Linked DNA regions of Homo sapiens. Changing the gene in region 3 together with the main gene of any one other region gives a genetic interaction. Each region holds a gene or a part of one and is shown on either strand. Other genes may lie near its edges. The genes, in order: TOP3A, TOP2A and CDC6.

Region 1 (3,188 bases), about 22 Mb from region 3:
AAATTTAAAAATTTAAAAAAATAAAAAGAATCCAACCCCGGCAGGGCGTGGAGGCTCACACCTGTAATCCAGCACTTAGGGAGGCCAAGGCTGGAGGATTGCTTGAGATCAGGAGTTCAAGACCAGCCTGGGCAACATAGTTAGACCTTGTCTCTATTTTTAAAAATATAACAAGCACAGTTGTACACGTCTTTAGTTCAGCTGCTCAGGAGGCTGAAGTGGGAGGATCCTTTGAACCCAAGAGTTTGAGGCTGCAGCAAGCCATGATCACACCACTGCACTCCAGCCTGGGTGACAGAGTAAGACCCTGTCTCAAACTTTTTTTAAAATGAAAGAATCCAACCTTTTTTTACTCTGACCTGCGAGAGTGCAGAGGGTCTGGGGAACATTTGCAGAAGCAACAGGTACCAGCCAGTGCTGGAAGGAGCTCACCCTGGGAGGTCTCGTCAGCCTCTGTCCTTCATGGCTGTCCCTTGTGTCCCATGTGGAGAGCCCTTCCTCCCTTTCCACATGGTAAGCACTGAGCCCAATTTCTTCTCACCCCACAGATGGTCCCTCAGAGCAGAGATGTCTAATGAAAGGTTCAGATTCAGATCACTAACTTTCCATCTTCCACTTTTTCCAGTGGTGGCCATGTTCCCCCGTTTGCCTTCACAAAAACCTTGTGAATAATACAAGCCATATGGACTCTGATTTACAGTTTAGAAGATGAGCAGAGGTGGGTGTGAGTTGCCCAGTCATGTTGCTAGTTGTTGAAGAAACTAGGATTGTTCTCAGGTCTTGGGCTCCTGGCCCATAGACCAGTGGCTCTGTGTTCTGATGGGGTATTGGGGAGGATTTTTACAAATGCAGGTTCCTGAGATTGTTCCTGGAACATCTCCGAGTGGGTGTGGGTTGTGGCCCTGCGTGTGTGATTTTGCCTATCCCAGCTCCGGGGTACCACCAACCACTTTTTGTCTCTGTGGGTTTACCTACTCTGGATATTTTGTTTAAATGGAATCATACCAGGCTGGGCACAGTGGCTCACGCCTGTAATCCTAGCACTTTGGGAGGCCAAGGTGGGCAGATCACCTGAGGTCAGGAGTTCGAGACCAGCCTGACCAATATGATGAAACCCCGTCTCTAAAAAAATACAAAAATTAGCCGGGCGTGGTGTCAGGCACCTGTAATCCCAGCTACTCAGGAAGCAGAGGTTGCAGTGAGCTGAGATCGGGCCATTGCACTCCAGCCTGGGCAAAAAGAGTGAAACTCTGTCTCAAGAAAAAAAAAAAAATGAAATCCTACCATACATGACATCCTGTGTCTGGTTTCTTTGACTTGGCTGATGTTTGTCAGGCTCATCCACATTGTAGCATGTCAGTCCTCGATGTTTATGATAAGCTGATAGCCCACTGTATGAATATACCACACGATTATCCATTTGTCAGTTGATGGACATTGGGTTGTTTCCACTTTTTGGCTATTGTGAATAGCACTGTTGTGAACATTGGTGTATGAGTGTCTGATGACTTGTTTTCAGTTATTTTGGGCATATGCCGAGGAATGGAATTGTAGTTTTATACCATAACTCCATGTTTTGACTTTTTGAGGAACCTACAAATTTTCCACAGTGGATGCACCACTTTACACCCACCAGCAGCACACCAGGGTTACTGCTTCTCCATATCCTTGTGAACACTTGTTCCTTTCCTTTTCTTGTATTATAGCCATCCTAGTGTTTTGTCATCCTAGTGGGTATGAAGTGGCGTGTCATTGTGGTTTTGTTTTGCATTTTCCTAGTCATTAATGACATTGACCATCTTTCCACAGGCTTACTGGCCATTGGTATACATTCTTTGGAGAATGTCGATTTAAGTTCTTCACCCATTTTTTATTTTTTATTTTTTATTTTTTTTTGAGATGGAGTTTCGCTCTTGTGCCCAGGCTGGAGTGCAGTGGTGCGATCTTGGCTCACTGCAACCTCTGCCTCCTGGGTTCAAGCAGTTCTCCTGCCTCAGCCTCCCAAGTAGCTGGAATTACAGGCATCTGCCTCCACACCCAGCTAATTTGTTTAGTATTTTTAGTAAAGACGGGGTTTCACCATGTTGGCCAGGCTGGTCTCAAACTCGTGACCTCAGGTGATCTACCAGCCTCGGCCTCCCAAAGTGCTAGGATTAACAGGCAGGAGCCATCACACCTGGTCTCTTCCCCCATTTTTAAATTGTGTTGTCTGTCTTTGTTGTTGAGTTGTAGGAGTTCTTAATAGTTTCTGGATATCAGATGCCTTTGTGGTTTTCACATCTCTGCAGGCAACTGTGTGTCTCAAAAGCAAACTGCAGGATTGGGCTGCACCATGGACTGGGCCAGGCATCTGAGATCAGACAGACCCAGGCTCAGCTCCCACTTCCTGGCCTCTTCTGCCACCCTGGGTGTGCAGCCTCATCCTTGGAGCCCCAGTTGCCTCATCCGTAATGGGGTGTCCTTGTTCATATTGAGGCTCTCTAGTGAAGGCTTACGGTCAGGCACGACTGCAAATTAAAGCTTCACAAATCAAACCTGTTGGAATTTCTAAGTCTCTCTCGATGGCCCACTCAGGTTAGCAGCATGCAGCTCATCCTACCCCGTCAACGTTGACTGGAAGGGTTTTTAGTCCCTGTGTTGAGCCACATCTGCAGCTTGTGCAATGCAAAACCAAGGAAAAGAAAATGGACCCCCCCCGCCCCCCCCTTGATGGATCTAGCTGAGACTAGGCACTGGCCAGGCTGTCACCTACAGTGGTTTCAACCTCCTGCTGCCAGCAAGACAGCATCTCCTGTCCTTTTTGTGCAGGAACCATAGCTCTGTTGGGTTAAGTGTTTTCCTCTACCAAGCAGCTAACCTGGCCTTGAAACCTAATCTCTGATGCCATGTCCCCCCAAGCCCCATCAGAGTTTTGTAAAAAGCCCCTCCCTGCTCTCCACACCAATGCTGAGAGCCCATGGGGTAACTGGAGGCTTCCCTGCCATCTTGGCAAAGAAGCCTGGCTGACGTCCTGCACATGCTTCCCCAGGTGATTGCTTGCACTTAACAGCAGAGGAAACGAGACCACCCCACACAACTTGTAGCAGTTGAGGAGTCTCTGCCTGATCCCACCCCGGATACTTAGAGCATCCAGAATTAAAAATAAGCCTTGTCACCAACATCCGGCTCCCCCACTCCCCAGAGCCAGG
Region 2 (3,654 bases), 110 kb from region 3:
TATTAGCTTATAATTTACTACATCAGAAAGGTCTGTTAAAATAGGCTACAATGTACCTAATTTCTCAAAATAAGCACAAATTGTCTAAAATATATTTTAAAATGCCTAATGAGGGAATTAAATATAAGCATAAAGTCTTGTATTATAAATTAGATTTAGATTCTGAAGATCGTCTTATATTCTACCTGCTTATGAGAAGCTTCTCGAACATTGAGTATTTTTCCTCTAAGAGGGAAAACCCCATATTTGTCTCTCCCAACCACACCAAGGCCTGAAACAGCCAAAGTTTTGGCTGAATCTCCCTCAGTCAGGATAAGCGTACACTCAGTGGAGTTTCGGCCCCCTAAAATAAAAATATACATATTAATATTAGCACATTTAGTTCAACCTCAAATATACTAACTTGAACATGCTGTTTATAGCCTTGTGATAAAACACAATTTACTATATAATGAGCAAAATTATTTGTTAGGTAATAGATCATAATATAAACATTCTTGTTTTATACTCCAAAATAATCACCTCAATATTATTTATAACATGGAAATGACCTAAATCTTCCATAATAGGAAACGGGCCGATTTTTAACAAGTTATTCTGTTGAATATAGTTATTCTGTCAAGGGAAAAATAAATATCCGTGGTATGCCATTAATGAATAAAATAACAACTATAAGACTTAAAAGTTTGGAAACATTATTAAATATATACCTGCATCATTGGCATCATCGAGTTTGGGAATTCCCTTGATTCTATTATGTTTTACAGCTGAACACTTCTTGTTTAACTGGACTTGGGCCTTAAACTTCACCCAGTTTAGTATGCTTTCTACAATACCACAGCCAATGGCCTGAAAACGAGAAGATTCATATTAGGGATCATATTAGGGAAGAAGGGATCTATCAGAAATCTAGAATACAAATGAGCCTTAATACAAATAAAAATGATTCAAAAATTAAAAAGATGTAGAACAATAATTTCTGGATAGAGGGTGGCACATCTTCCCATGTCAGGTTATCACCACTGAGGGAGCTGCTCCTTTTGGTTCATTCGTTCAATAAATATTTACTATATAATTATATTGTGCTAGCACTGAGCTACTTGTTGGAGATATAGTGGTTAAAACAAATTAGACCAGGCACGGTGGCTCACGCCTATAATCCCAGCACTTTAGGAGGCCAAGGTGGGCAGAACACCTGAGGTCAGGAGTTTGAGACCGGCCTGGCCAACATGGCGAAACCCCGGCTCTACTAAAAATACAAAAATTAGCTGGCGTGGTGGTGGGCACCTGTAATTCCAGCTACTCGGGAGGCTGAGGCAGGAGAATCGCTTGAACCCAGGAGGTAGAGGTTGCAGCGAGCCAAGATCGCACCATTGCACTCCAGCCTGGGTGACAAAAGTGAAACTCCGTCTCAAAAAAAAAAAAAAAAAAAAAAAAAAGGGTAGCCAGGCATGGTGGTGGTGAAATGGCTGTAATCCTAGCTGCTTGGGAGGCTGAGGCAGGAGAATTGCTTTAACCTGGGAGGCGCGGGTTGCAGTGAACTGAGATCAAGCCACGGCACTCCAGCCTGGGAAACAGTGAGAAGCTGTCTCCAAAAAAAAAAATTAAAAATAAATAAATAAAATTAGACACAAATAAAACAAATTGAGACACTTGTCCTCATCAAGTTTAAGACACAACATAGAAGACAGACATAGCTGGGTGCAGTGGCTTACGCCTGTAATCACAGCACTTTAGGAGGCCGAGGATGGTGGATCAAGTGAGGCCAGGAGTTCAAGACCAGCCTGGCCAACATGGTAAAACCCCATCTCTATTAAAAATACAAAAATTAGCTGGATGTGATGGTGCATGTCTGTAATCCCCGCTACTCAGGAGGCTGGAGAATCCCAGCTACTCAGGAGGCAAGGAGAATCGCTTGAACCTGGGAGGCAGAGATTGCAATGAGCCAGGATTACGTCACTGCACTGTAGCCTGGGCAACACAGCAAGACTCTGTCTCAAAAAAAAAAAAAAAAAAGACTGGGCACAGTGGCTCATGGCTGTAATCCCAACACTTTGGAAGGCCGAGATGGGTGGATCATTTGAGGTCAGGAGTTTGAGACCAGCCTGACCAACATGGTGAAACCCTGTCTCTACTGAAAATACAACAACAAAAAAATTAGCCAGGCATGGTGATGCATGCCTGTAATCTCAGCTACTCGGGAGGCTGAGGCAAGAGAATCACTGAAACCTAGGAGGCGGAGGTTGCAGTGAGCCGAGATCGTGCCACTGCATTCCAGCCTGGGCGACAGAGCGAGACTCTGCCTAAAAAAAAAGACAGAAATAAAATAAGTTACAGTGTTATAAGTGTTATGGATAAGCAAAAAGTTTGCTAATAAGGTATGTTCAATATTATATTGGAACCAACTTAGGTGGGGGGAAGGGTAGAAAGTAAAGGCTTTCCTGAGGAAAGGACAAGACCTAAAGTAGCCAGGTGAAAAGGATGTATTTCATGCAGAGGGATTAGCATGTGAATAAACTCTGAGGAGGGGAAGAGCACTGTGCTTTTCAGTAATTTAAAAGCAACAGGACAATATACGAAAAACTGGCACTGAGATGAGTTGGAGAAGTAGGTGTAATTAGATTACAGCAGATCTTTCTTGTTGGCCAAATTATGGAATTTGGACTTTCCCTGAGTGGAAGTCATTGAAAGATTTCAAATGAGAGTGAAGATAAAAATGGGTGTTTTAACACAAAAGTCACTCAAAAGCATTCCAAGGAAAGGACTTAACCAGTATGAAGGTTAAGAACCTATTGTAGTAAACCAAAAAAGAGATAATGGTGAGAAGCTACTGCAGCATCCAAGAGATGATTCTTATTGACCGGATTAGAGAGGAGGGGAAATAAAGGAAGGCTCCCAGCTTTCTTGTTTATACAACCTAGAGGTTGGTTGGGGCTTTTTACTAAGATAGGAAGTTGTTTTTTTGTTGGAGAGTGGGGGGCTGCTTGTATGGGCAAATCAGTGAGTATGGAGGTAACAAATTCAATTTTGGATGTGTTGACTGAAAGCAAGTCTTAGGCATTTAAGTGAGGGTGTTTGTTAAACAGCTAGATTAATTCAAAAGTGATCTAAGCTTAATGGTAAAATGTAATTGGGAAATACTGAAATATAGACGGTCATTAAGTCTTTGGTAAATCAGTTAAAGTAAAGCCCTTTTTTACTTCCTTTTCAGATTGGGAAGACTTGGAGAAGCTCACTATGAGAAGAATCATTGTTTCTGCAGAGCTAAGAAGTGCAATGGAAAATAAAGTCAGGTGTTTCTATTTTTATTTTCCTCTAAGTACTCACAGCTTTGATAAATTTTTCACTCAATTGGCATGTTGATCCAAAGCTCTTGGGTTGTAAAGTCATGTTTTCTTTTGTCTGAGAGTCAAAGGTTGGGTTTTCAATTAAGGCATTTACAAAAATCCACATGTGATTTTTCACCTGCAATAGAAGTTGATATTAAGCCACTAAAAATGTACTCATGCTTTATTTATAGCCTTTCTCTTCTTCCTTGACTTTAGAAAAAGAAAACTGCCAAAAGCACATACCTGATGTGCTTTTACTGCAACACCACCCTTGTTCTTCTTCTTCACAACATCAACAAGTTTAGTCACAATCTGATCAGCTACA
Region 3 (3,654 bases):
TTTAATCATTTAAGAAACCTGAGTCTGGGTTTGCAAAAACTTATCTGAATACCCTATTTCTTCCTCTTTTCAATAAAATCTTTGAACAGGCTTCTGTAGATATTCCCGAAAACCTATACAGTAATGTAGGAAAGGGGCTTTATATATTTCCTAGAGAGATGCAGAAATGAAGGGGAGGATAGGGAAAGGATTAATGATAAACTCTCAACCACAATCCAAGGGAAATAGGTGCCTTTTATATAGTACCAGTATTAATTCTTACTGTTAAAATCCATTTTAAATTTATTATCAGCTGAAGTATCATAGGCCTTTTGGAAAATACCTGCTCTGCAAAGCAGATTCTGATCTCTACCTCCGTTCCATCTGCTCCATCCCAACTTACCTTCCCCAGAGTGACCTCTTTGATTTTCAACTGCCTGATCAAGAGCATCAAAGAGCAAACCAAGATCTTCTGCTGAAGAGGGAAGGAATCTTGTGCTCCTTCTTGGCTCAAGGTCATCCTGTTACCATCAACTTCTGAGATGACTTGGGATATGTGAATAAGACCAACCCTCTTGGGAATCAGAGGCTCAGAAGGTGATTTACCTATAAAGTAAATAAGCCAAGCTTAATTCGATTTCTAAAATACTGTGTGTGTGTATGTATGATGAGACAGATGATACTAAGTTTGAGCTAAAGGAAATTCAAGTATAGTCACATGGTGGCAAAGCAGAGGTTTTAAATCTCTAACCAGAGGCCAAAGGATGAGAGATAATGCTATTCTCTTAAGGATGTCAAAATAATGTGGGATGACTTGAAAAGTAGGGTTACCCTTTCTCTGGGCCAAATAGTGAGCTGTTTTGTCCTATGGAATGTAATTTAATGTCAGAGGAACAAAACCCACCTCATGAAAGGACCAGAGAACTACTGTATTTTTTTTTGGGACAGGATCTCTGTCACTCAGGCTGGAGTACAGTGGCACTATCATGGCTCACTGCAGCCTTGGCTTCCTGGGTTCAAGTGATCCTCCTGCCTCAGCCTCCTGTGTAGCTAGGATTACAGGTACGTGCCACCATGCCAGGCTAGTTCCTAGTATCTCAGAGGTATAGAATAACAGAACCTTGAAGCAAAGATGGTGACTGTGCTTGGTAATTAAGAAAGGAAAAAAAAGGCCAGGTGCAGTGGCTCACGCCTGTAATCCCAGCACTTTGGGAGATCAAGGCGGGCAGATCACCTGAGGTCAGGAGTTGGAGACCAGCCTGCCCAACACGGCGAAACTCCATCTCTACTAAAAATACAAAAAATTAGCTGGATGTGGTGGCAGGCGCCTGTAATCCCAGCTACTTGGGAGGTTGAGGCAGAAGAATCACTTGAACCCGGGAGGCAGAGGTGCAGTGAGCCAAGATTGTGCCACTGCACTCCAGCCTGGACGACAAGAGTGAAACTCCATATAAAAAAAAAAGAAAGGGAAAAAAAAGTTGGAAAATTACCGAATATTTTGGATCAAATGAGTGGCTAAATGTGGAGAGTGAAGTCGCTGCCATGTCAGCCCTTCAGATGGCTTCCCCAAATGACCTTTGAGGTTTGGTTCACTTGCCCAAGCTGATTAGCAGTAGAGCAACACTTGAGAAAATGTCATTGGATATGCTAGCAGATAGCACCATCTTTTTTTTTTTTTTTTTCTTTTTGGTATTTTTTGTAGAGATGGGGTTTCATCATGTTGCCCAGGCTGGTCTTGAACTCCTTAGCTCAAAGCAATCTGCCCTCCTCGGCCTCCCAAAGCACTGGGATTATGGGCGTAAGCCACCATGCCTGGCCAGATATCATCATCTTAATAAAAGCCAGGGGTTGGGAAACTGCCAATAAGCTTCATAAGACTATATCCTTAGCAAACTACTGTAGGAACAGAAAACCAAATACCACATGTTCTCACTTCTAAGTGGGAGCTAAATGATGAGAACACATAGACACATAGTGGGGACAACACACACTGGGGCCTATAGGAGGGTGGAGGGAGAGGATCAGGAAAAATAACTAATGGCTTGAGCTCAGGAATTCATGACCAGCCTGTGCAACAAGGCGATGGGTTTCCCCCATCGCTACTAAAAATACAAAAAAAACAGCCGGGTGTGGTGGTGTGTGCCTGTGGTCCCAGCTACTCAGGAGGCTGGGGTGGGAGGATGGCTTGAGCCTGGGAGGAGGAGGTTGCATTGAGCCAAGATCACGCCACTGCACTCCAGCCTGGTGACAGAGCGAGACCCTGTCTCAAAAAAAAAAAAAAAAAAAAAAAAAAAAGACTATGGCCTTATCGTTTGGAGATGCATGAATTCCAAGACAAAGAAATGTGTTCTGTAACAACCTTTACCTGAAGTTACTTCCTGAAATCACTTGCAGTTGCCCCACAACAATTTACTTCTATAATATTACATTACCACAAAGGGATGCTGCAGAGGACTAATGGAGAAACCGGAGATCACAGATCAAGTAAAAGAATCTTAAAATTGAAAGGAATTTAGAAGTCTATTTTTACTCCCTATCCACTGGCCGAGTCCTCTCTAGAACAATCTCAACAAGTGGCATCTATCCAGCTTTTGTCTGAATATCTTCAATGCTGGAGAACCCACTATGTTTCAAGGAAGCCCAGTTAGTTCTAGTTATTATAAATTTTCTTCTTATATTTAGTTAAAGTCATTCTCCCTATAGCTTTCTGGAGCCCTTGAAAGCCAATCTCAACCTGGTATGGTGGCTCATGCCTGTAATTCCAAAGCTGTGGGAGGCTGAGGCAGGAGAATCACTTTATCCCAGGAGTTTGAGACCAGCCTGGGCAACATAAGGAGACTCCTCCACCCACTGACTCTACAAAAATTTTAAAATTAGCAGTAGCTGGAGCTGGGGAGGCTGAGGTGAGAGGACTGCTTGGGCCTGGGAGGTTGCAGCTGCAGTGAGCCATGATCGCACCAGCCATAATTGCACCACTGGACTCCAGCCTGGGAGACAAAGCAAGACCTTGTTTTACACAAAAAGAAAAAAAAAAAAGAAAGAAAAAAGCCAATCCCGCACAAACCAGAAGTCAAAAGATAGAACTTACAACCTCTTTACCTTTTTGAATTATGTTTGTGTTAGTGGTGCTCACAGGGGCCAGTGACAAGCCTAAATGTTACTGATGGGGAAAAAGGAGGAGGAAAAGGGGATAATCTGAAAAGTTGAAAAGGAGGAAGAAACCAGTATCTAAGTCTATACATTGGTATATATTGCCTACTATTAGCCTAAGCACTATTTTTGGCTACTTCTGAAACATTTTTAATTATTTTATTTTAGCAAATTGATGAAAAAAAGAAAGAATTTCATGCAGAACTATAATGCCAGAAACAATTTTACTTAAACTCCCAGCCAGTGTAGGAGTGAAAAAGAAACAATCAAATCTTACTATTCTGTTTATAAAGACTAACACTGGATATCAAATACTGTAAGATACGTAGTTCATGGCCATTTTACATTTGCCACAACCAAAACAAGGCTGAGGGAATGGAATATTAATTTTGTCATTTGTGATACCATGCAGCTTACTGTAGCAGTATGATCTTTTTACCTCTACCCTCTAGACTTGTTTAAAAGCTTGAGATATCCCAAGTTGAACTTATAATTCTTCTTATTATTATTCTTTTGGGACAGGGT

The links.
Region 1: changes in CDC6 (region 3) and TOP3A are lethal when combined (synthetic lethality), as found in Homo sapiens cells (one large-scale study listed by BioGRID).
Region 2: changes in CDC6 (region 3) and TOP2A are lethal when combined (synthetic lethality), as found in Homo sapiens cells (one large-scale study listed by BioGRID).

Annotation. Positions count from the first base shown.
Region 1 is NC_000017.11:18,270,774-18,273,961, reverse strand, and holds the end of TOP3A (DNA topoisomerase 3-alpha), read left to right. Parts: 3' UTR 1-2,534; downstream 2,535-3,188. UniProt on the Homo sapiens protein: Releases the supercoiling and torsional tension of DNA introduced during the DNA replication and transcription by transiently cleaving and rejoining one strand of the DNA duplex.
Region 2 is NC_000017.11:40,407,782-40,411,435, forward strand, and holds part of TOP2A (DNA topoisomerase 2-alpha), read right to left. Parts: coding exon 3,573-3,654; intron 3,466-3,572; coding exon 3,328-3,465; intron 850-3,327; coding exon 711-849; intron 344-710; coding exon 186-343; intron 1-185. UniProt on the Homo sapiens protein: Key decatenating enzyme that alters DNA topology by binding to two double-stranded DNA molecules, generating a double-stranded break in one of the strands, passing the intact strand through the broken strand, and religating the broken strand.
Region 3 is NC_000017.11:40,297,759-40,301,412, reverse strand, and holds part of CDC6 (cell division control protein 6 homolog), read right to left. Parts: intron 586-3,654; coding exon 383-585; intron 1-382. UniProt on the Homo sapiens protein: Involved in the initiation of DNA replication. Also participates in checkpoint controls that ensure DNA replication is completed before mitosis is initiated.